Linked DNA regions of Homo sapiens: regions 1 and 3 are each linked to region 2. Evidence: fine-mapped expression QTL. A gene starts in region 2. Each other region holds a variant in brackets. All regions are shown on one strand. Distances are between the middles of the regions.

Region 1 (7,609 bases), 48 kb before region 2:
TCCCAATAAAAATGAAGAAACAAAGTCCTCCCAACATTCTGTAACTAATACATGTTTATGTGCACCTTAAGATCCTGGTTTAAACTCCATGAGCATCATGAAATCTTCCAAGGTCAATCTCAAATTTCATTTTCCACTTGGCAACACACACACACACACACACACACACACACACACACTCTCCATCTCTCTCTCAACTTGACCTATAACAAGGCAAACTTGTTTTGAAAGAACAAATTTCAGATGTCTCAGAGACTCAAACATATTAAAGGTGATCTAAATCCAATCCCTATTCCTTTAGAGGCCCAGAGGTTTAAGTAATTGCCAAATGTGTTAAATTATAAATTTCTTCAGTAAAAAATCCATGTTTTTTATTTGTAATCCAATCTGACAATGGTGGTCTGTACTCAATAACTTGTACTACCTTCAAAGTATATCCTGAACCCAACCAACCACATCTCTCTATCACACCGCACTGCCATACTCTAAGCCACTAACATCTCTTGTCTGGACTTCTGCTTTAATGTTTTAACTGGTCTCACTGTGGCCATTGTTGCCCCCACCCCCAACAATCTATTTTCATATAATAGCTAGCATAAACATAAATCACATCATTACTTCCCTTCTTAAAACTCTCCATGGTTGGCCAGGCGTGGTGGCTCACGCCTATAATCCCAGCACTTCGGGAGGTGGAGGCAAGTGGATCATGAGGTCAGGAGTTGGAGACTAGCCTGACCAACGTGGTGAAACCCTGTCTCTACTAAAAATACAAAAATTAGCTGGGTGTGGTGGCGCGTGCCTGTAATCCCAGCTACTCAGGAGGCTGAGGCAGCAGAATCACTTGAACCCAAGAGATGGACGTTGCAGTGAGCTGAGATTGCACCATTGCGCTCCAGCCTGGGCGACAGAGCAAGACTCCATCTCAAAAAAAAAAAAAACCAAAAACAAATAAACAAACCACAGCTCTCCATGGTTTTCTTCCTGTCACATTCATAATAAAATATAAATACCTTAGAGAGGCTTACAGACTCAACATCTGGTCCCTACCCCTCTAACTTTACCTTGTATCATTCTTTCCTGCAATCATTATGCTCCAACCATGTTGGTTTCCTTCTACATTTTAATCCCATCAAGCTTGTTCTTGCCTTAGGACCTTTGCACTACCTATTCCCTCTACCTGGAATATTCTCCCTCCACCTGGAATATTCTCCCTCCAAAACCCTCACATAGCTAGCTCTTTCTTGCTCTTCAGGTATGAGCTTAAGTATCACCTCTTCGGAGACGCCTTCCCTTATCCCTAAATCTAAAGCACTGAGTCAGTTACTCTCTACTCCATAACACTGTTTTAATTTCCTGCATAACATTTACCAGTATCTGATATTTTAATTTATTGTTTATTTATGTTTATCTCATCCCATTACAAGGTAAGTTCCAGAGGAGCAGAGGCCTTGTTTGTCTTTTCTTTTTTTTTGAGACGGTATTTCACTGTTGTTGCCCAGGCTAGAGTACAATGGCACGATCTCGGCTCACCACAAACTCTGCCTCCCGGGTTCAAGCGATTCTCCTGCCTCAACCTCCCGAGTAGCTGGGATTACAGGCATGCGCCACCACACCCGGCTAATTTTGTATTTTTAGTAGAGACGGGGTTTCTCCATGCCGGTCAGGCTGGTCTCAAAACTCCTGACCTCAGGTGATCCGCCCGCCTTGGCCTCCCAAAGTGCTGGGATTACAGGCATGAGCCACCGCACCTGGCCGGCCTTGTTTATCTTTAACCACTGTATCCCTGTATGTACACTGGTGCCTACCATATAGTAAGAGCTCAGTAAGTATCTGTTGGATGAAATGAATAAATATAACATATAGACTCCTTTAGGGAGTTGCTTTTCCATACTGCTCCAGCCATGCCTCTGCTCCCACCCCTCATACATCATAAGCCATGTTAAAGTTGTAAATCACTGAGAAAGATGAAGGGAAAAGCAAGGTTAATATAATGAAAAAGTACAATCATAGGAAAACGAAAAACAATACAGATAATATGTTAGAGAATTTTACTCCCACATCATATTTCTCTCTACCTTTATTGTCAGCTACCTCCTTTGTCCAAGCCAACGTCATCTCTTGCTCGTATTAGGGCATCTCCTCCTCTCTTGACCCACTGCAATCCATTTTCTTTTCTTTTCTTTTCTTTTTTTTTTTTTTTTGAGATGGAGTCTTGCTCTTGTCACCTAGGCTGGAGTGCAATAGCACGATCTCGGCTCACTGCAACCTTTGCCTCCCGGGTTCAAGCGAGTCTCCTGCCTCAGCCTCCCGAGTAGCTGGGATTACAGGTGCCCGCCACCACACCTGGCTAATTTTTGTAATTTTAGTAGAGACGGGGTTTTGCCACGTTGGCCAGGCTGGTCTTGAAGTCCTGACCTCGTGATCCCCCCAACCTCGGCCTCCCAAAGTGCTGGGATTACAGGCGTGAGCCACTGCGCCCGGCCTGCAATCCATTTTCAACATCTCAAAAAGAGATGTCCTTTAAACACAATTTGAATCATGTCATTTCCCTGCTCAGAATCCTTCAATAATGTCCCATTGTAGGATAAAATAAAACAAACATTAACATTGCCTAAAAGGCCCTGTATGAAAGATCTGGTGCCTGTCTATCTCTCAAATTTGAACTGATGGACTCAATACTGTCAATCACACTGGCTTTCTTTCTATTTCTCTAATTCCCTTAAGTCTTTCTTAGTTCAAAGCCTTACTTAGAATGTGCAATTTTCTCTGTTTGGAAATGTCTTTTCTGCTACTGTTGGCTTTGTCTAACTCCTCCTACTCAGACATCAGGTCTGAGCTAAAATATTACTTTCTCAAAGAGTTTTTTCCTGATTTTCCAATCTAAATTAGCTCCCCTTGTGATATTCTTTCATAATACCGCATACTTTTCCACAAATATATATGAGAAGTTATTCATTGTAGTATCTAACTCCCTCACTAAACTAGAAGCTTCATGGGAGCAGGCACATTATCTGTTTAGCTCTTTGCTTTATCCCCTGCGCCACAGTAAGCATCTAATAAATATCTTTGGAATGAATGAGTAAGCAGGTAGTGAGGGGGAATAACCTGTGGTATAGAAGCACAATTAAAGTGATATAATATCTTACCTTGCACAATATTAGTCATTCATTATGGAAGAGCATCTGTCTTCCATCTCTCCCCATTTGATATTCTCCGATAGTTTAAGATCTAAGTGATTGGAAGCCAAGTGACTGATCAAGACTTATATACTCTGGAAAGATCCTAAGATATCTTTCCCTCATATAAGACAAGCTATGCAATATAGAGGCTACAAAAAAAAATCTTAAAGGAGAACAGGATATCAAACCTGAATGAACGCTGGGCCCACTTCTCCTGATCCACACGGGGAGCCAGTCCAGACTTTCCAGCCCACAGGACATTGTCACAGGCGAAGTACAAGGCTCGATTGAGGTGACTAACAGTGATGCAGAATCTCAGGACAACATCTGATAGGTGAACAGCTCTTTTGGCTGACTCAAGGGCATCTGCTGAGTTACCCAGGCGTAGAACTTGTGGAGATTAGAAAGGGAAAGCAAGGATTTGTAAGTGGAGAGGCAGATAACAAGAAACAGAAACAGAGAAAGCAAGAGGGCAAAAGTTGAGCAATAATAATGACAATTTTTTTAAAGAGCAGAAACAGGCTGGGCATGGTGGCTCAAGCCTGTAATCCCAACATTTTGGGAGGCCGAGGTGGGTGGATCACCTGAGGTCACGAGTTTGAGACCAGCCTGGCCAACATGGTGTAACCCCATCTCTACTAAAAATACAAAAATTAGCCCGGCATGGTGGTGGGCACCTGTAGTCCCAGCTGCTCAGGAGGCTGAGACAGGAGAATTGCTTGAACCTGGGAGGCAGAGGTTGCAGTGAGCCAAGATTGCGCCACTGCACTCTGACCTGGACGAGAGACTCTGTCTCAAAAAAATAAAAAATAAAGAGCAGAAACAGTCCATTTTTCAATTTCAAATTTAATTTTTGTGCCAGTTTAGTTTTCTCAAACTTGACCCATTCTCTCCAGTCCGCCTAATTACTTCCATACCCCTGCTCTCTTATCTCAACTGGACTCATGCAGAGGGTAAGTGCAGAGCCAAATGAGAAAGAAGAACAGAGAGGGTACAGGAAGGAGGGACAAAGGAAGGTGAGCTGGGGATGGAGGAAAGGTTGGGGGATAAAAGGAAAGACAGAGTTACTTACGCTTTCTTCCAAGGCTCAGGTGGCTCTCCAGTTGTCGAATCTGTTTCTGTAACTCAGGACTGGCTCCATGCCTCTGCAGCGCATGGCCAAGAAGAGAGCAAGCATACTGGGCGGCCCTAGAGGAGAGGGCAGGCAA[G/A]GTAAGGTGGAGACCTCCCTAACCTTCCGCTCAAAACTATCTTCCAAAAGGCACAGACAGACTTCCCCCTTTCCCAGTTTGAGAACACTCCCCTTCCTCCTCCATGCCCATATCTCACCATTTCTCCAGGCCAGAGGAAGGGAAAGGCATAAGGAGAAAAAAGAGTCTAGAAAGGGGTGGGGAGCACTATTGAATGTTGAGCAAATTAGAGATTTGACAATGATGAGGCCTGAAGGGGCCAGTGCAGGCCGCAGGGGTCCATCACAAGCACATCAGCGTGAGCATGTACGTGATCGATGAGGGGGAGGCAGACAGTTGGAGGGCATTTTATTCCTCAGAATAGGTGAACTGAGAGATTTCAAGGCCCTCTAGCTGAATGGAGACCAAACGCCAGGGCGGAGGCAGGGGAGTTCCCGAATGGCAGCACGGTGTGGGGACACGGAAACTGGGAGTGCCTCCTCAGCTCTGGGGGCAGAGTCTGGGGCTATCCACCGTGGGGCGAATGCTCCTCATTCCATCACCGCCCAGTGAGGACACTGTCGGTCTTATGTGGACACAGCAACCCTGAGCGGCCTCCCCGCTGGCCCACTCATGCCTCAGTTTCCCCATCTCTTCCGCGAACGGAAAGGAATCATCTCAACAGCGGCTCAAATCTGCGCCTCACGGTCCGTTCGGGCCCCCGTAGCCGGAGTTGACCCTTCTTGACCCCCCTGTAGCCTAAACTGACTTCGCCTCACTAGAGTCTTCCTCTGTCCATCCCTCCCCCGCCCCACCCCCATTCCTATTCGGGCCGCACCTACACAGCCGCTCCCGGGCTTGGCTCTGAGCACTGAAGCGGACCCAGGCGTCCATGACAGCCGCAGCCCAGGCTCCGCGGCCCTGCTCCCGCCCCACTTCCCGCCCCTAGTCACGCCTACTGCGCGACCCAACGGTGCCTCGCGAGGGACAAACAGTATCAGAAAAGAAAGCTTGGCCCTGGAAGCGGAATTTCAGGACGCGAAACTCGTGTCTTTTGAGCCTCCATCTGTGTATTACTGTGCGTGTCTGCGTCACAGCTTCCCCTTATCAGACGACCCCTACTCCCTAGCACGCCTCCAGCGGCACCTTCTTCTTTAAATATTCATGACCAAGGGCGGGGCCTGCAGGGGCCGGGGCGGGGCGAGAAAGCGCCGCAGTGATCTCCACGTCTTGGAGGCCGCCGGCATAGGTGTGCGCCTGGCAGAACCTCACAAATACACATGCACGCAGGCCCCGACTGAATCCAGGGCTGTAGGGGCTAAAGAGGTCTAGGTCAGTAGAGGCCTGAAGCCCAGGCTGGTCTGTCCAAGGAAAAAGGAGCGTGATTGGTACCAGATCTTCGTTCCCTGCAGAACCTTGACAGTTGAACAAGTGACCTCCTCCAGAACAGATGGAGAGTCTCCAGAAGCAGAGGCTTTAGTGAACGAAATTCGCAATAATCAGCTCCAGATCCTGAAAAGGAGGGCGAAGAATCAGTGGCCAAAGCTAACCGCTTCATACCCACACTTCATCCTCCTCAGTTTCTCTCCAGGCCACCATGTCTGCAGGCAACGGCACCCCTTGGGGTCAGCAGCGGGGGAGGAGGTCTGGGCTGGATCAGGAGTGGAGGTGGAGGGCTCAGAGCTGCCCACCTTCTCGGCAGCAGCCAAGGTCCGAGTGGGAGTGACCATTGTGCTGTTTGTTTCTTCGGCTGGAGGGAACCTGGCAGTCCTGTGGTCAGTGACACGGCGGGAACCCAGCCAGCTCCGCCCCTCTCCGGTCAGGAGACTCTTCATCCATTTAGCAGCCGCCGACTTACTAGTCACTTTTGTGGTTATGCCCCTAGATGCCACCTGGAATATCACTGTTCAATGGCTGGCTGTGGACATCGCATGTCGGACACTGATGTTCCTGAAACTAATGGCCACGTATTCTGCAGCTTTCCTGCCTGTGGTCATTGGATTGGACCGCCAGGCAGCAGTACTCAACCCGCTTGGATCCCGTTCAGGTGTAAGGAAACTTCTGGGGGCAGCCTGGGGACTTAGTTTCCTGCTTGCCTTCCCCCAGGTGAGTGACCTAGGACTCAGGACCGGGCAGGACAGGGATTTGGGTCCATAGCATGAGTTAAAGGGTGCGCTTGGGGGCCATTAGCCATTAATTCTCAGGGAGTAAGCCTCTGCTTGCTTTTTTTTTTTTTTGCCGGCTCACTGCAACCTCCGCCTCCCGGGTTCAAGCAATTCTCCTCCCTCAGCCTCCCGAGAAGCTACAGGCGCCCGCTACCATGCCCGGCTAATTTTTGTATTTTTAGTAGAGGCGAGGTTTCACCATGTTGGCCAGGTGGTCTCCATCTCTTGACCTCATGATCCACCTGTCTCAGCCTCCCAAAGTGCTGAGATTACAGGCGTGAGCCACCGCACCCTGCTACCTCTGCTCTCTCTTCTGTAAGATTATTTGTATGTTAATTTACATCTGTTAAGAGCCTGCCTTTTCGATTCCTCAGGGATCTAGAACTAGAAATACCATTTGACCCAGCCATCCCATTACTGGGTATATACCCAAAGGACTATAAATCATGCTGCTATAAAGACACATGCACACATGTTTATTGCGGCACTATTCACAACAGCAAAGACTTGGAACCAACCCAAATGTCTAATAATGATAGACTGGATTAAGAAAATGTGGCACATATACACCATGGAATACTATGCAGCCGTAAAAAATGATGAGTTCATGTCCTTTGTAGGGACATGGATGAAATTGGAAATCATCATTCTCAGTAAACTATTGCAAGGACAAAAAACCAAACACCGCATGTTCTCACTCATAGATGGGAATTGAACAATGAGAACACATGGACACAGGAAGGGGAACATCACACTCTGGGGACTGTTGGGGGGTGGGGGGAGGGGGGAGGGATAGCATTAGGAGATATACCTAATGCTAAATGACGAGTTAATGGGTGCAGCACACCAGCATGGCACATGTATACATATGTAACTAACCTGCACATTGTGCACATGTACCCTAAAACTTAAAGTATAATAATAATAATAATAATAAAAGAGCCTGCCTTGTAAAAACAGTATCCTCTATCTGTGCCTCTTCCATTACATCTGTTTTATTACACGTGGTTTCTACCTCTTTGCATCCTCCCAATCTCACCTCCTTCAGATTGGGGCAGGGAAGAAAAACATACATGGGGATCTATTAAGAGAGTGAAGT
Region 2 (7,609 bases):
GGGATGGTGGAGAATTGAGATACTGCCGGGTCTTCTTGGTGCCTGAGGGCGAGGTATCGGTGGTGATGATGATGACCTCCGTACCCTTGGCCTTGCAGGCGTCCAGCAGTGTGGCAAGGGTCTCGCGGTCCCCGCGGTCCAGGGCGTGGACAAGAGCCGAGGCGCCCGCGTGATCTCGGACTGAGGGGTCTGCGCCGTGGGCAAGGAGCAGCGAGGCCACCGCGGCGCCCCCACCCCCGGCGCAAGCGTGCATGAGCGCCGTGCGCCCTAATCGGTCTGCGATATTGGGGTCCGCGCCTTGCTCCAGGAGGTAGCGTACCATGCGTGCCTTGTTCTGGGGGTCGTCGTAGCGGGCCCGACAGGCTGCCATTAGCGCAGTCTCCCCCTGCGCATCACCCTCATTCACGTAGGCGCCTCCCTCCAGAAGCAAACGGGCCAAGCGTAGCTTACCCTGACCCACCGCCCGAAGAAGAGCGTGGCCCTCGGTGTGCAACATAGCTGCGGCTGGGGCGAGGGCACAGATGGAGCCGGGACTGAGACCTGCCGAGGATGACTAGGGGTATGGGGAGGGGGAGTGGCTGGCAGAGGCCTGAGGTCTCAGTGACGAAGCCGATCCCTGCAAGAGAGACATCTCATTGATAGATTCGGCAGGAAAACTGAGGCACAGATGCAGGGACCCAGCGTGGGGTGGAGGAGACCTTCACGGCATACAGTCCTTCCTCTAACTCATGCCTTTGAGCCGGCCCTTCCCCCGCAGCGCATGCCTGAGGAGGTGGGAAGGGTGCACCCGCACTGAAGGACTAGCGCGCGTGCAAATGCGTTCGTGCACGCGCAGGGATGTCCGCACCCCCACCCTCACCCCATGGCTTATCAGACCTTTCCTCTGTCCCCCTTGTCTTATCCACACTTGGGATCCCCCTTTCTAGGATGCTGAACGCCACCCACCCACATACATGCACCCTACAGTCACACATGTATTCTCATTCCTAACCTGTTTTAGCTTGCCACAACCCCAAAAATTGAGTGGGGGGAGGGAAGCAGCCTGCATTTGAGACCTAAAACGGGTGGAGGGAGAATTGGGGGGTTCTATTGCCCCTGCGATGTTCCCCATCACTCCTTGCTCTTTCCCCTCCCAGGCTGTGTGCCCAGATAGATACCTGAATGTCCGCAGAATCTCCGCCTGGCCAGGATTGGGGCCGTGGCCACGGGGCAGCCGAGGTGGCGGAGCCAGTTTCCTGGGGGCCCGCATGGCGTGGGGGGGGGGGCACCCGGATTCCCTTGGTGTCAGTATCTGCGCCCCGGCGCCGGATCCTGGTCCCTCCTCCCGGAGCGCCCCGGGCACAGCGCCGGCTCGGGAGGAGAGAAGCTTGGCGGGGGGGGGGGGGGGGGGGGGGGCGGAGCTCTGCTGTGCTATTTATAGCCTAGTCACTGCGGGTGGGGGCGTCAGGCACCAAACTGCTCCCCCACTCATGCACACATAAACCCTCAAAAACCTAGAGGCTCCAATCCTGACTTCCTTTTCTCAGCCGACCTCCCCTCAGCCCCAACAAACCTAAGTGTTCCTTAGGGGACTCCTCCGCGACCCAGACAGGGACCATCATCCAGATTCTTCGCTGAGATTCAGCAGATCCCCATTCTCCGCACTTGGTGTGTTTGTGCGCTCCTGTGCGCCAGACCTGACCTGCCATACACGGCACATGGCACACTGTGTAAGAAAGGTGTAGAAAGGCTTTTTGGATCCACAGCCGGTGTCCATACTGTGCAAAGAGAGGCAAGAGATGTGGCTTTCTTCCTGTAGTTTAATTGTGAAGGAGATCACGGTCCAGCCTGGAGTCAGACACAGATACACCCCCGCCCCATCTCTCAAAAACGGAACACCCATCGCAGAGAAACTTGGACCTCAGCTCCCTTATGTAGACCTCTTAGATAAGTATGAGGAAGGTGGATATGGGAGCACTTTTAGATAAGGCAAGGGACATTCCAGGTGCCTCCACCCCGTATTATTGTGGGCAGGGAGATAGGACAGGGGCAGGAAGAAGAGCGAACCTTGTAATACACTCTCTCACATTGCATCTCTTTAATCTCAGTCTTGCTTAGACGTCTTATTTTTTCCATCTTGCTTGACGATCTCTGTCTGAAACATTCCTTATATCTTCTCTCTTCCTATCTGTCTATTGGTCTCTCACACTGTCTCTGCCTCTCCTTGCCACCTGCCCTGTCTCCATGGTTACCATAGCTTCCATCCACATATTTTAGGAATGAGTTTGTGTCCAGCTGGAAGGCACCAAGGGAAGTGGGAGAAAAAGAAAAATCCTAAGGATTTAAAAAGTTCACTCAGGGTCCTGAGCTAATTCAGAGGCTGGAGGCCCCCCAGATGCAAGATACTGAAAATAATGTTCCCGGGGATGGGAGAGAGAGAGAAATATTTGCAGGAAGCTACCCATTTTTACTAGTTATTTCTTGGACACGTGTCAACTATGTGCCATGTGCTTTACATACACTATTTTCAATCCTCACAACTTTATAAGATAGGAACTATCATCTTCTTGTTACAGATGAGGAAACAGACTTAATAAGGTTAAGCAAGCTCTCCAAAGCTTCACAGCTATGTTTCTGTCCTATGGCAAAGACTGGGAGCTTGCCACTACACCTACAGCCTCCCAGTCTACAGGCCATTTTCTCTGACATCTGGGATGTTCTTCTTGACTAACTCCTAGATTTCATCTCCATTCTGAACCTTTCTCCCTTGTTTCTGCTTTCTGTGAAAATAGGACTCCTCCTTCCACTCTGCTGGCTTTCCCAAGGAGCTCGCAGGAAGTGGAAAGTAGTGGAAAATGCAGAAAAAGCTGGGCTCCTGCCCTGTCTCCCCAACCCTGGTACGCTGATCCCAAATCCTTCCTTTCTTGAACCCTCTGCCCACCTTCTCACAGACACGGCAGCAACCCACAGAAAAACATTTTTAGAAAAGAAGTATCCATTGGTGGTGCTGGAGAGAGGCAGTGTATGATTGAAAGGAAGGCTGGAGTAATGGAGAGACCAAGCTATGAAGCTAGAGTCACAAAAAGACTGATCCCTAAAGAGCAGCTTTTACAGAGGTTCATTTCTCCGTAGGCCCTCTCCTCCTTTGGCCTCTCTGTAGGGGCTCCCTCAACACGGTCCCTCGATGAGATATGAGTGTCACGTTCCCTCGGTGAACTCTCGCCGGCTAGTGGCTCCTTCATCTGGAGTGAGACCGGAAATAAGTGACCCCAGCTGATTCTGCAACGCCCATCTCTCTCTGCGACCCGCTTCGCAAGCTTCGGTTCCGGGCGTACTCGCTCCCTCCCTCCTTCTCTTCCTAGGCTTCAAGAGGGCGGACTTCCCTCCTCGGCTTCTCCTGCATTGGCCGAGAAAACTCACCAATAGGGAGCTCCGGGAGGCGGGCTTAGAACGCCACCGACTTGAGGAAGCCCAGTACATTTCAAGTTGGTCGCGGCTTGGGCTCCGCTTTGGGGAGGGGCAGCAGGTAAGGCTTGACCTGGTTCGGTCCGACACTTGCCAAACTTGTTCACCCCGGCCAGGCTGCGAAATAGACAACGCTTTCCGTCAGGTTGTTGGATCAGCCCCCTTCTGGCTCCCTACCGTTTCTCCCCTGGGCTTCCATTTCTGTATTGATTGTATACTAGAGAATGGCAGTTTTCTATCGCGCATGGGGAGAGACATTAAAGCAGAAAACGAGACAGCCTCTTGTATCTGTCTTTGCTATAGCATCAACTTCCCCCTAATCTATTAATATTATCCCAAGAGCCTGACAAACTCCTGTTATCTATGAAGACTAGCTGAAATGCTACCTGTAGTTTTCCTGGGCCGCCTTTCTTGCAAAATGAATTGTTCCCCCGTCTACGATAGCGTTTTGTATATACCTTTATTAGGACACTTAGTGCACTGTCTCTCTTTAACGTTTCTATGCCTTTTAGAATAGAAGGTTTTGTAGGACAGGTGCTAGTAGTTAATATATAGTGCCCAATAAACGTTAGTTAAATAGAATTGATTTCTGGTAACTAGCACTCTTTTTGGGGAGGCAGAATTTAAACTCCTAACATAACTAGGGAACAATAAAAGACAATACAGTATGTAATTAAGAGCCATTAAATTAGTGGTTCATAATATTAGTGTTTCATAATTGTTTCTACAATCTAGAGAAGGAAGAAAGCAAGGAGAACTGGAATGGTGAGGGGAGGCTTTATGGATCACAATTTCTCAAGTTTGGAAAGGCCCATAGAAATGATGTATTTATTCATTCAATAAATATTTATTGAGCACCTACTATATGCCAGACACAATGCTAAATCATGCTGATCATAGGGAATCCTCTACTAGAGCCATGCATCCTTCTTACAAACCCTATGTAGTAAATTTTTACCCAGCTTCTATGTAAACATCTTTAGTAAGGGAACTCTCTTATCTCTCTTGTAGATCATTCAATTTTTTGATACCTGTTCTTTAGTCAATATCCTACAAATATTCTAAATAAGAAATATATAGCTAAAGGAAATGCATTCCACACTTCCACTGTAAAAGAGGGAAATATGGCTGGGCACGGTGGCTCATGCCTGTAATCCCAGCACTTTGGGAGGCCGAGGCGGGCAGATCGCCTGAGGTCGGGAGTTGGAGACCAGCCTGACCAACGTGGAGAAACTCTGTCTCTACTAAAAATACAAAAATTAGCTGGGCGTGTTGGCGCATGCCTGTAATCCCAGCTACTGGGGAGGCTGAGGCAGGAGAATCATTAGAACCCAGGAGGCGGAGGTTGCAGTGAGCTCAGATCGCACCATTGCACTCCAGCCTGGGCAACAAGAGCAAAACTCCCTCTCAAAAAAAAAAAAAAAAAAAAAAAAAGGAAATCTGTCCTTTTACAGTGGAATTGGTAGCATTCTTAAAAGCAAGCCATTTCTGGCTGGGCGTGGTGGCTCATGCCTGTAATTCCAGCACTTTGGGAGGCTGAGGTAGGCAGATCACTTTAGCCCAGGAGTTCAAGACCAGTCTAGGCAACATGACAAAACCCTGTCTCTACAAAAACTACAAAAAAAATAGCCAAGCATGGTGTCTCAGGCCTGTAGTTCCAGCTGCTCAGGAGGCTGAGGTGGAGGGTTGCTTGAGCTGGAGAAGTCGAGGCTGCAGTGAGCCAAAATTGCCACTGCACTGCACTTCAGCCTAAGCGACAGAGCAAGAACCTGTCTCAAAAAAAAAAAAAAAAAAAAGAGGCCGGGCGTGATGGCTCATGCCTGTAATCCCAGCACTTTGTGAGGCCAAGGCGGGTGGATCACGAAGTCAGGAGTACAAGACCAGCCTGACCAACATGGAGAAACCCCATCTCTACTAAAACTACAAAAAAAATTAGCCAGGCATGGTGGCGCATGCCTGTAATCCCAGTTACTCGGGGGGCTGAGGCAGGAGAATCACTTGAACCCAGGAGGTGGAGGTTGCGGTGAGCTGAGATTGCGCCATTGCACTCCAGCCTGGACGACAAGAGTGAAACTGTCTCAAAAAAAAAATAATAAAATAAAAAGAACATAAATAAATAAAATGGGTATTTTTTAACCATTCATTTATTGTTAGATTGTTTCAGTTATTTCAGAATTTTTGCTACCATAAATAGCTCTTTGATGAATATCCTTTTACTTATATCTGTGACTGTATATCTGTTGATGTCTTTGGAATATATTTTTAAAGTGGGATTGCTGGATTAGGGATATAAACATTTCAAAGGCTGTTGATTTAACTGGACAAATTGCTCCCCTTGAAATATTATGTTTATAGTCTTTCCAGTGAGGTATGAGAGTGTCCATTTGAAAAAAAACTCATGACAGCCTGCTTATTATTTAAATCTTTGTCACTTTCATAGGTGAAGAGTGGTTTTATTGGCCATTCTCTCTCCTTTTTTTTTTTTTTGAGACAGTCTTGCTCTGTTGCCCAAGCTGGAGTGCAGTGGTGAGATCTCAGCTCACTGCAACCTCCACCTCCTGTGTTCAAGTGAGTCTCATGCCTCAGCCTCCTGAGTAGCTGGAATTAAAGGTGTGTACCACTGTGCCTGGCTAATTTTTTGTATTTTTAGTAGAGACAGGGTTTCTCTATGTTGCCCAGGCTGGTCATGAACTCCTGGCCTCAAGTGATCTGTCCACCTCGGCCTCCCAAAACCCTGGATTACAGGAGTGAGCCACCATGTCCAGACATGGCCATTCTCTTTGCCAGTTGCCTGTTCATGTCCTTTGCCCATTTTTTCTATTGAGATGATTTTTTAAAATTTGGATTTCCAAGATTTTAAGGGTGTTAATTTCTTGCTTTATTTATTACATGTATAGCAAATTCTACACATCAGCGTGCCCCAGGCCTCAGTGCCTGGATTTCTTATTTTCTCTGTCCACATCCACTCCTTTAGGGGTCTCACCTAGTCTCATGGCTTGAAGTATTGTTTGTTTGCTGATGCCTCCACTGGAATGAAAGCTCCATTTAAACCCCGTGGGTGCAGCATGTTTTTGTCTGTTTTGCACACTGCTATATCCATAGAATCTAGAACAGTGCCTGGCACACCTAGTAAGCACTCAGTAAATATTTGTTGAGTGAAATGATTCTATTATTGTTATTTTTATTCCCATTTTACAGATGAGGAAACAGGTTTAGAGACAATAAATAAATTACCAGAGTTTTGTAGCTAGGAAATTGAACTGGGATTCAAAACCATATTCTTAACCTCTACATGTACTGCCTTCCTTAAATTTGATGTAATTGTTAGTGTTTTTCTGTATGTTTAGTTGAAACCTGCCTCTCAGTAACTTCCACCACAATATATATGTATGAATAATTGGGAATGAGCATAGTGTATATGAGTGTTGTTTGGAGTAAAACAGAGTACAGGGGTAAACTCTCTGGAAAGGTTGATGTTAAGGAGGAGCAGATTGTGACTAGATTATGGGAGACCTTAAGTATCCTCAAGAATTTTAACTCCATCACAATCTTTAATAGCAGAGACTCCCTATAGATTCCTAAGATGAATGGGGCAGATGGATGGTTTATTTCCCAACCTGTATTAAATAAAATTTTGTCTTCTTTTTCCCCTGCATTCTTAGAGGATCACTCATTTAATGTGTAGAAATGGTGTGGAATTTGTCTAACCTCAAACTCATGGCCATTTATTGACTCTTCATTGCTTTGCAGTCACAGCAGCTCCTATCTCCACTGCCAGAACTATATCTGTCAAGTGGAAAGATACTTAACCAGCTGGTTAGAATGTTCTCTCGCTTAAAAGGGGCTGAAGACACGGTGACAAATTCTTTTTTTTTTTTTTTTGAGACAGAGTCTCGCTCTGTTGCCCAGGCTGGAGTGCAGTGGCACAATCTTGGCTCACTGCAACCTCTGCCTCCTGATTTCAAGTTATTCTCCTGCCTCGGCCTCCTGAGTAGCTGGGATTACAGGCGTGCACCACCACGCCTGGCTAATTTTTTGTATTTTTAGTAGAGACGGGGTTTCACTTTGTTGGTCAGGCTGGTCTTGAACTCCTGACCTCGTGATCCGCCCACCTCAGCCTCCTAAAGTGCTGGGATTACAAGCATGAGCCACCACGCCCAGCCAA
Region 3 (7,609 bases), 31 kb before region 2:
GCCTGGGAGGTGGAGGCTGCAGTGAGCCAAAATCACGCCACTGCATTCTGGCCTGCTCATTAGAGTGAGACCCTGTCTCAAAAAAAATAAAAAAAAACTTTGGGAAATGCTGCTAAAGGTAAAGATAGTTCAGTGATGGCTTAAGCAAGGGAGTGTCACAGTCATAAGTATTTTATAAAGAAATATGACAGTAGTATGGAGGATGTTAAGAATGGAGGTGAAGACCAGCTAGGAAGCTATTGTAGTGATCCAGTCTGGAGATGAGAAAGGACCAAACCTAAGCTCAGGCAGTAAATATGGACAAAACATATTAGGAGGTAGGCCAGGCGCAGTGGCTCACACCTGTAATCCCAGCACTTTGGGAGGTTGAGGCGGGCGGATCACCTGAGGTCGGGAGTTCGAGACCAGCCTGGCCAACATGGTAAAACCCCATCTCTATTAAAAATAAAAAAATTTGCCACGTGTGGTAGTGGGTGCCTGTAATCCCAGCTACTTGGGAGGCTGAGGCAGGAGAATCTCCTGAACCCAAGAGGCAGTGGATGCAGTGAGCTGATACTGCACCATTGTACTCCAGCCTGGGCAACAAGAGCAAAACTCTGTCTCAAAAACAACATATTTACATTATGGTAGAGGAGTTGAGGGTGGATCTGAGGTGTGTGGCTTAGGTAACAGTGTAGATAATAATTCTAATAATAGATCGGCGGGGCATGGTGGCTTACGCCTGTAATCCCAGCACTTTGGGAGGCCCAGGCAGGTGGATCACCTGAGGTCAGGAGTTCGAGACCAGCCTGGCCAACATGGTGAAACTCCATCTTTACTAAAAATACAAAAATTAGCTGGGCGTGGTGGCGGGCGCCTATAATCCCAGCTACTCAGAAGGCTGAGGCAGGAGAATCGCTTGAACCCAGGAGGCAGAGGTTGCAGTGAGCCGAGATCGCGCCATTTCACTCCAGCCTGGGGGACAAGAGCAAGACTTCGTCTCAAAAATAATAATAATAAGAATAATAATAATTCGAATAATCTAGAGAGTCAAAGAGGAATGAGTATGGAGAAATGTTTTTTATTTTCGATATGTTTCAAAGTGCTTTTGTCATATTCAGATGGCCGTGTCAAGTATGTGGAAAGTAAATGTAAAAGCTTAAAACAGGTTGGGGAGGAAGAAATAGATTTGAGAGTCATGTGTATAGTGGAGTTCAAGTCACCATAATGGGTGAGATTGCCAGTGGGAGTAGGTAGAGCTTGAGGAGAAAAGACCAAGGACAAACTCCAGGTTAAATATCTGCAGAAAGGGAGGCAGGCTGCCTTATGCAATCATTTCTACCACCCCAAAAATGCTAATAAAATTTTTTTTTTTTTTGAGATAGAGTCTCACCCTGATGTCCAGGCTGGAGTGCAATCACTCAGTCTCGGCTCACTGCAACCTCCACCTCCTGGGTTCAGGTAATTCTCCTGCCTCAGCCTCCCAAGTAGCTGGGATTACAGGCGCCCACCACCATGCCCAGCTAATTTTTAATTTTTTTTAGTAGAGATGGGGGTTTCACCATGGTGGCCAGGCTGGTCTCGAACTCCTGACCTCGTGATCCACCCGCCTCGGCCTCCCAAAGTGCTGGGATTACAGGCATGAGCCACCGCACCTGGCCTAAAAATTCTTCTTTAGTATATATGTAAAAGAACAGGGATGTTTTAGAGCTTCTTGTGGGGAAAAGAAAGGGAGACCAGATTGTTACTGTGTCTGTGTAGAAAGAAGTAGACATAGGAGGCTCCATTTTGTTCTGTACTAAGAAAAATTCTTCTGCATTGAGATGCTGTTAATCTGTAACACTACCCCCAACCCTGTGCTCCCTGAAACACGTGCTGTGTCAACTCAGGGTTAAATGGATTAAGGGCTGTGCAGGGTGTGCTTTGTTAAACAAATGCTTGAAGGTAGCATGCTTGTTAAGAGTCATCACCACTCCCTAATCTCAAACCACTTCCTAATCTCAAGTACCCAGAGACACAAACCACTGAGGAAGGCCGCAGGGATCTCTGCCTAGGAAAGCCAGGTATTGTCCAAGGTTTCTCCCCATGTGATAGCCTGAGATATGGCCTCGTGGGAAGGGAAAGACCTGACCGTCCCCCAGCCCGACACCCGTAAAGGGTCTGTGCTGAGGAGGATTAGTAAAAGAGGAAGTAACACCTCCTTGCGGTTGAGACAAGAGGAAGGCATCTGTCTCCTGCTCGTCCCTGGGCAATGGAATGTCTCGGTGTAAAACCTGATTGTATATTCCATCTACTGAGATAGGGGAAAGCCACCTTAGGGCTGGAGGTGGGACATGCGGGCAGCAATACTGCTCTTTAAGGCATTGAGATGTTTATGTGTATACATATCCAAAGCACAGCACTTAATTCTTTACCTTGTTTATGATGCAGAGACCTTTGTTCACGTGTTTACCTGCTGACCTTCTCTCCACTATTATCCTATGATCCTGCCACATCCCCCTCTCCGGGAAACGCCCAATAATGATCAATAAATACTAAGGGAACTCAGAGGCTGGCGTGGATCCTCCGTATACTGAACGCTGGTCAGCTGGGCCCAGTTTTCTTTCTCTATACTTTGTCTCTGTGTCTCTTGTTCCACCTAACGAGAAACGCCCACAGGTGTGGAGGGGCAACCCACCCCTTCACTTTTGTAATATATAGGTCTCAAGAAAGAGTCAGTCTGGCTCACTAGACAAAAATCTATTTTTAATTGTATAAAATTATACATATAAAATACATAGAATGTACTAAGAAGATGAGTAAAATCTTTGACACCAGAAGTGGACAGATCAGGAAACAATTTTTCTCAAGTTATTTGGGATCTTACTGGTTGGTATTTGAGAAAAATAATAAATCCAGGAGGTACGAGGGCAATTCTTCCCACAACTCACACCCCTTAATCCACACGTCCCAGAGAAAGGAGAAACAGGAGTGTTGATGAGTGCCAGCTTATAAATGTCAAACAGACACACCTGGTGTGTCTAGCTGTTTTTGCCTTTACTCCAACCCGACGTGTTTCATGGAATACAAACATGGGGCTTCTACCCCAGCTCTCTTCTGATTAGTAAGAAAAAAAAAATGATAGGGCCTGGAGAATTCAAGGAAGCCCGTTTCAAGCACTAATAAAATTGTAGCTGGATTCCTTACCTCTTACCCAACATGATTTCAAAAGCAAGAAAGTTGCCTTTCATCTTGCCCCTATCAAATCCAAAAGAGCCAATTATAGCCTGTTTCATAATCTATTTTTATTGTTGTTGTTACACTTGAACTTTCTGTTTGGAACCTAATCTATTTCTAAAAGCAAAGTCTGTATAATTGTTAAGTGGGAAGTCCAATTGCAGGAATACTAAATGTTCCAAGCTCAGTTTAGAAAGTACATGGGACAATAATATAGTATAAATAAGAGATCACAGAGACAAGGGGGAAATATATA[TTA/T]GAGACCTCCAAAAAAATTCTCTGAAAGGAGAATACTTTAGCTGCTGTACTACAGGTTATTTCTCTCTTATGTCACCCAGGAGAGAAGTGGGGGAGAATGGTGTTAAAAACACAAATAGTGCCGGGCGCGGTGGCTCACGCCTGTAATCCCAGCACTTTGGGAGGCCGAGGCGGGCGGATCACGAAGTCAGGAAATCGAGACCATCCTGTCAAACACGGTGAAACCCCGTCTCTACTAAAAATACAAAAAAATTAGCCAGGCATGGTGGCGGGCGCCTGTAGTCCCAGCTACTAAGGAGGCTGAGGCAGGAGAGTGGCGTGAACCCGGGAGGCGGAGCTTGCAGTGAGCCGAGATAGCGCCACTGCACTCCAGCCTGGGCGACAGAGCGAGACTCCGTCTCAAAAAAAAAAAAAACACACAAATAGTTTGGGAGGCCGAGGCAGGTGGATCACGAGGTCAGGAGATGGAGACCGTCCTGGCTAACATGGTGAAACCCCGTCTCTACTAAAAATACAAAAAATTAGCTGGGCGTGGTGGTGGGCACCTGTAATCCCAGCTACTCGGGAGGCTGAGGCAGGAGAATGGTGTGAATCTGGGAGGCGGAGGTTGCAGTGAGCCGAGATCGCGCCACTGCACTCTAGCCTGGGCGACAGAGCAAGACTCCGTCTCAAAAACAAAAACAAAAACAAAACCAAAAAAAAACCACAAATAGGCCAGGCTCAGTGCCTCACGCCTGTAATCCCAGCACTTTGGGAGGCTGAGGCGGGTGGATTACCTTATGTCAGGAGTTCAAGAACAGCCTGGCCAACATGGTGAAACCCTGTCTCTACTAAAAATATAAAAATTAGCCAGGCGTTGTGGCGTGTGCCTGTAATCCCAGCTACTCGGGAAGCTGAGGCAAGAGAATCGCTTGAACCCTGGAGGCAGAGGTTGCAGTGAGCCGAGATCACGCCACTGCACTCCAGCCTGGGCAAAAGTGTGAGACTCTGTCTTCCAAAAAAAAAAAAAAACCACACACACACACAAATAACTGATCATTGATTCTCTTTCCCTTCCTGCAGTCTCCCAAGGTGTCAATTAGGAAGTGCCAAAATACTAAAGTCTCATTTAATTTTCCTGATCAACTTATGTTCTAATAATTAATGTGGAAGGAGAGGAAAGAAAGAGAAAACAAATGAGAATCTAAGGTAGTAAACAGCAGCAACTTAGCGGGAATAAGGGGAACATGGTTCTCACTAACCAAATAGGACTGATAACGCTTCCAAAAAATAAAATGTTAGGTGAAGGGAAATATGGAAATATGTTTTACTTTCTACTAATAGCTGCAGGCAGGAAGGTCCAAACGCAGGGTTTAACTAAGCTGGGGGAGTAGGGGAGATGTTTAGAGGGAATACTGAAAGAGAATCAGTTTCAACCATAACCCCCATCTACTGTAGAGTATATCCAGAAATCTAGACTACTAGTATGGTATACATATGCCCTAGAAGCAACTTAGGTAGTAAACTCCCATGAATTGTTTGTAATTTATCTTGTCCCTGGGCAGTTTCTTAGGAGGGGTTTCAGAAGCAAGATCTCTACTTCCTTCAGAATAATAAGGTAGGGAAGGAAGCCTCAAAACAAAGTGGCAATTTGGAGGCAGAGAAGGAATAAGGTAGTGGTGGGGAGGAAAGGGATAGCAAGCAGGTTCAGTTCAGGAACTAAAGGCAAAATCTTCATACTCATACCCTGTTTGAGTCCAAGAGGAAGCAGGAATGAGAGTAAGGGTGGGGCACATAATCCTTATTCAAGTTACCTGATATTTGAAAAGAAGGACACATGAACACTAGAGTTAATCTTTTAGTGCTACTGAAATGGCTACACAGTTAATCTGGAAGTTTAAGAGCTAACAAAGCTGCAAAGACAAGCTGCTCTTTGTTGTAAAGTGGACTGAAGATGTTTCAAATAAAACTACATCCAAAAACTGGTAGTAAGAAAAGGGATCTCTTAGCAAATAGGAATCTAGGTGTAGAATTTATACACATATATATTTTTTAAAGTATAAAAATGAGAAAGTATGTACAAAAAATCATCCTAAATCTTAGAAAGGAGACATAAAAAAAGGCTGTGGAAAGCCTGGGGAGTTATGTGGGTGGATGCCTAGCAGTTGGAAGAATGCATATTGCCCAACTGCCCAGCAGCCAGCACAAGAATATCTTTCTTCTCCTTGTGGAAGCGCAGCTCCTTGCCTGCCAGTCGGGCTTCATCCAGCTCCCGCTCAGTAGAGGCCAGCTCTCTAGACAGTGCCCCCGGCACACTCTGCTCCCGGCTCACCCAGTCCAAGGCCATTTGGTGGCGAATATCATCATCCAGGGCCCGGTGCGAATAATGAGCCAACACCTCCTAGTAGGGGAGGGGAATGTGAACATCATTGAGAAGGTAAAGGTTCATATCATACCACACTGACCCAACTGGGACTAAGAACTCAGCTTTAGAGACCTAACTGAGGTCAGCACCTAAGTTCTTCAAGGAGATTCTTAAAGGCACTTCCTGCTACGGGAAGCAAGATAGACAAAAGAATCACAGCTAATATTTACACAGGAAAGATTATAGGAATGAAGAGGGTACTTAGGTAAGGCTTTCAATATTCACAACCATAGGTCACAATAGACCTTATTTCTAACATAGTAACCACCTCAAAAGAGTCCACTGACAGATTGTGCTCCCCTCATTCGCCCCCACTCATAAAATCTCTTACCTGCCGAGAGCATTGTCGTTCCCTCATGGCCTTAAGGCTGCCATTCCAGTGTAGCAGTTGAAAAACTGTCATTAGCTCCTGGGGGAAGAGGATAGGAAGTACCAGGACAGTGATTTTTATATTGGGAGGTTGCATCAGAATTACATGGGAAACCTTTTACAAAATGGATTTGTAGAAGCATCTCTCATCACTAACTCTGATAGGCCTTTGGGGAAGAAAAATATTTATTTATTTATTTATTTATTTATTTATTTATTTATTTATTTACTTACTTACTTACTTATTTGAGACAGAGTCTTGCTCTGTCACCCAGGCTGGAGTGTAGTGGCGCAATCTCAGCTCACTGCAACCTCTGCTTCCTGGGTTCAAGCAATTCTCGTGCTTCAGCCTCCCAAGTAGCTGGGATTACAGGCATGTGCCATCATAGCTAATTTTTGTATTTTTAGTAGAAACGGGGCTTTGCCATGTCTCAAACTCCTGGCCTCAAGTGATCCACCCGCCTCAGCCTCCCAAAGTGCTGGGATTACAGGCCTGAGCCACCATGCCCAGCCAGGAAGGTATTTATTTTTGAAAAATAGTGTAACAACCTTCTTTCTTTTCCAGTATCAATGAGTTAGGAATTAGTAGGAGCCATTATATATTACAGTAGCAGGCTGACCCATGTTATTAGAACCAGGGAAGTACATGGGAAAGTACCTGGAACTCCAACATTGATTTGCCCTTGTTGGATTCCAGCATGAATCGGAAGGCACCAATCCCTGTATTTGGGTTGTCAGCTTCCTCCCTGTTGCCCTGGTAGTAGAGGAACAGAAAAGACAAATAGATTTTCAACCAGGATTATCATCTCAAGCAGCACTGTCCAGTAGAAATATAATGCAAGCCACATATTTAATTCAAAATTTCCTCTCTGCCACATTAAAGTAAAAATAAAGAGGTAAGTCCAGGTGCAGTGGCTCATGCCTGTAATCCCAGCACTGTGGGAGGCCAAGGTGGGCAGATCACTTGAGGTCAGGAGTTTGAGACCAGCCTGGCCAACATGGTGAAACCGTGTCTCTACTAAAAATACAAAAATTAGCCGGGCATGGTAGTGGGTGCCTGTAAATCCCAGCTACTCAGGAGGCTGAGGCAGGAGAATCACTTCAACCTGGGAGGCGGAGATTGCAGAGATCGGGCTACTGCACTCCAGCCTGGACAACAGAGTGAGACTCTGTCTCAGAAAAAAAAAAAAACAAGTAAAATTAATTTTAATAATATATCTTATTTAACCCAATATGTTCAAAATATTATTTTTCAACTGTAGTCAGTATAAACATTATTAATGAAATATTTTACATTTTTGTACTGACTTTCTGAAATGTGGTATAAGTGTGGAAATTCTGGGTAGCAGTGTGGTCTCCTGGACATTGGCCTATTGTGTCTTC

The links. PIP is the estimated chance that this variant, and not a neighbour inherited with it, causes the effect.
Region 1: its variant is the best candidate, but not a certain one, in a credible set for the expression of ANKRD34A in whole blood (TOPMed, PIP 0.56).
Region 3: its variant is the best candidate, but not a certain one, in a credible set for the expression of ANKRD34A in whole blood (TOPMed, PIP 0.73).

The regions. Positions count from the first base shown.
Region 1 is chr1:145,913,450-145,921,058 of GRCh38, forward strand. It overlaps PEX11B (peroxisomal biogenesis factor 11 beta), which reads right to left and starts at 5,268. Exons shown (of 4, transcript NM_003846.3): 1 at 5,184-5,268; 2 at 4,252-4,367; 3 at 3,368-3,569. The coding sequence starts at 5,239. It also overlaps the pseudogene GNRHR2. RefSeq lists enhancers at 4,421-4,967, 4,968-5,515, 5,314-5,413, 5,794-5,853, 5,904-6,003. The variant G/A (reference allele first, on the strand shown) is at 4,388.
Region 2 is chr1:145,961,264-145,968,872 of GRCh38, forward strand. ANKRD34A (ankyrin repeat domain 34A) reads right to left here and starts at 3,312. Exons shown (of 4, transcript NM_001039888.4): 1 at 2,921-3,312; 2 at 2,047-2,274; 3 at 1,158-1,705; 4 at 1-616. The coding sequence starts at 496. POLR3GL (RNA polymerase III subunit GL) reads left to right here and starts at 3,427. Exons shown (of 8, transcript NM_032305.3): 1 at 3,427-3,505. RefSeq lists enhancers at 1-504, 3,154-3,323 and a silencer at 2,544-2,838.
Region 3 is chr1:145,930,720-145,938,328 of GRCh38, forward strand. It overlaps LIX1L (limb and CNS expressed 1 like), which reads right to left. Exons shown (of 6, transcript NM_153713.3): 4 at 6,885-6,980; 5 at 6,189-6,266; 6 at 2,704-5,833. The coding sequence ends at 5,591. All of the region lies in intron 2 of LIX1L-AS1 (LIX1L antisense RNA 1), which reads left to right. Among named protein-coding and RNA genes, the nearest start is that of RBM8A, 7.0 kb to the left of the region's middle. The variant TTA/T (reference allele first, on the strand shown) is at 3,452.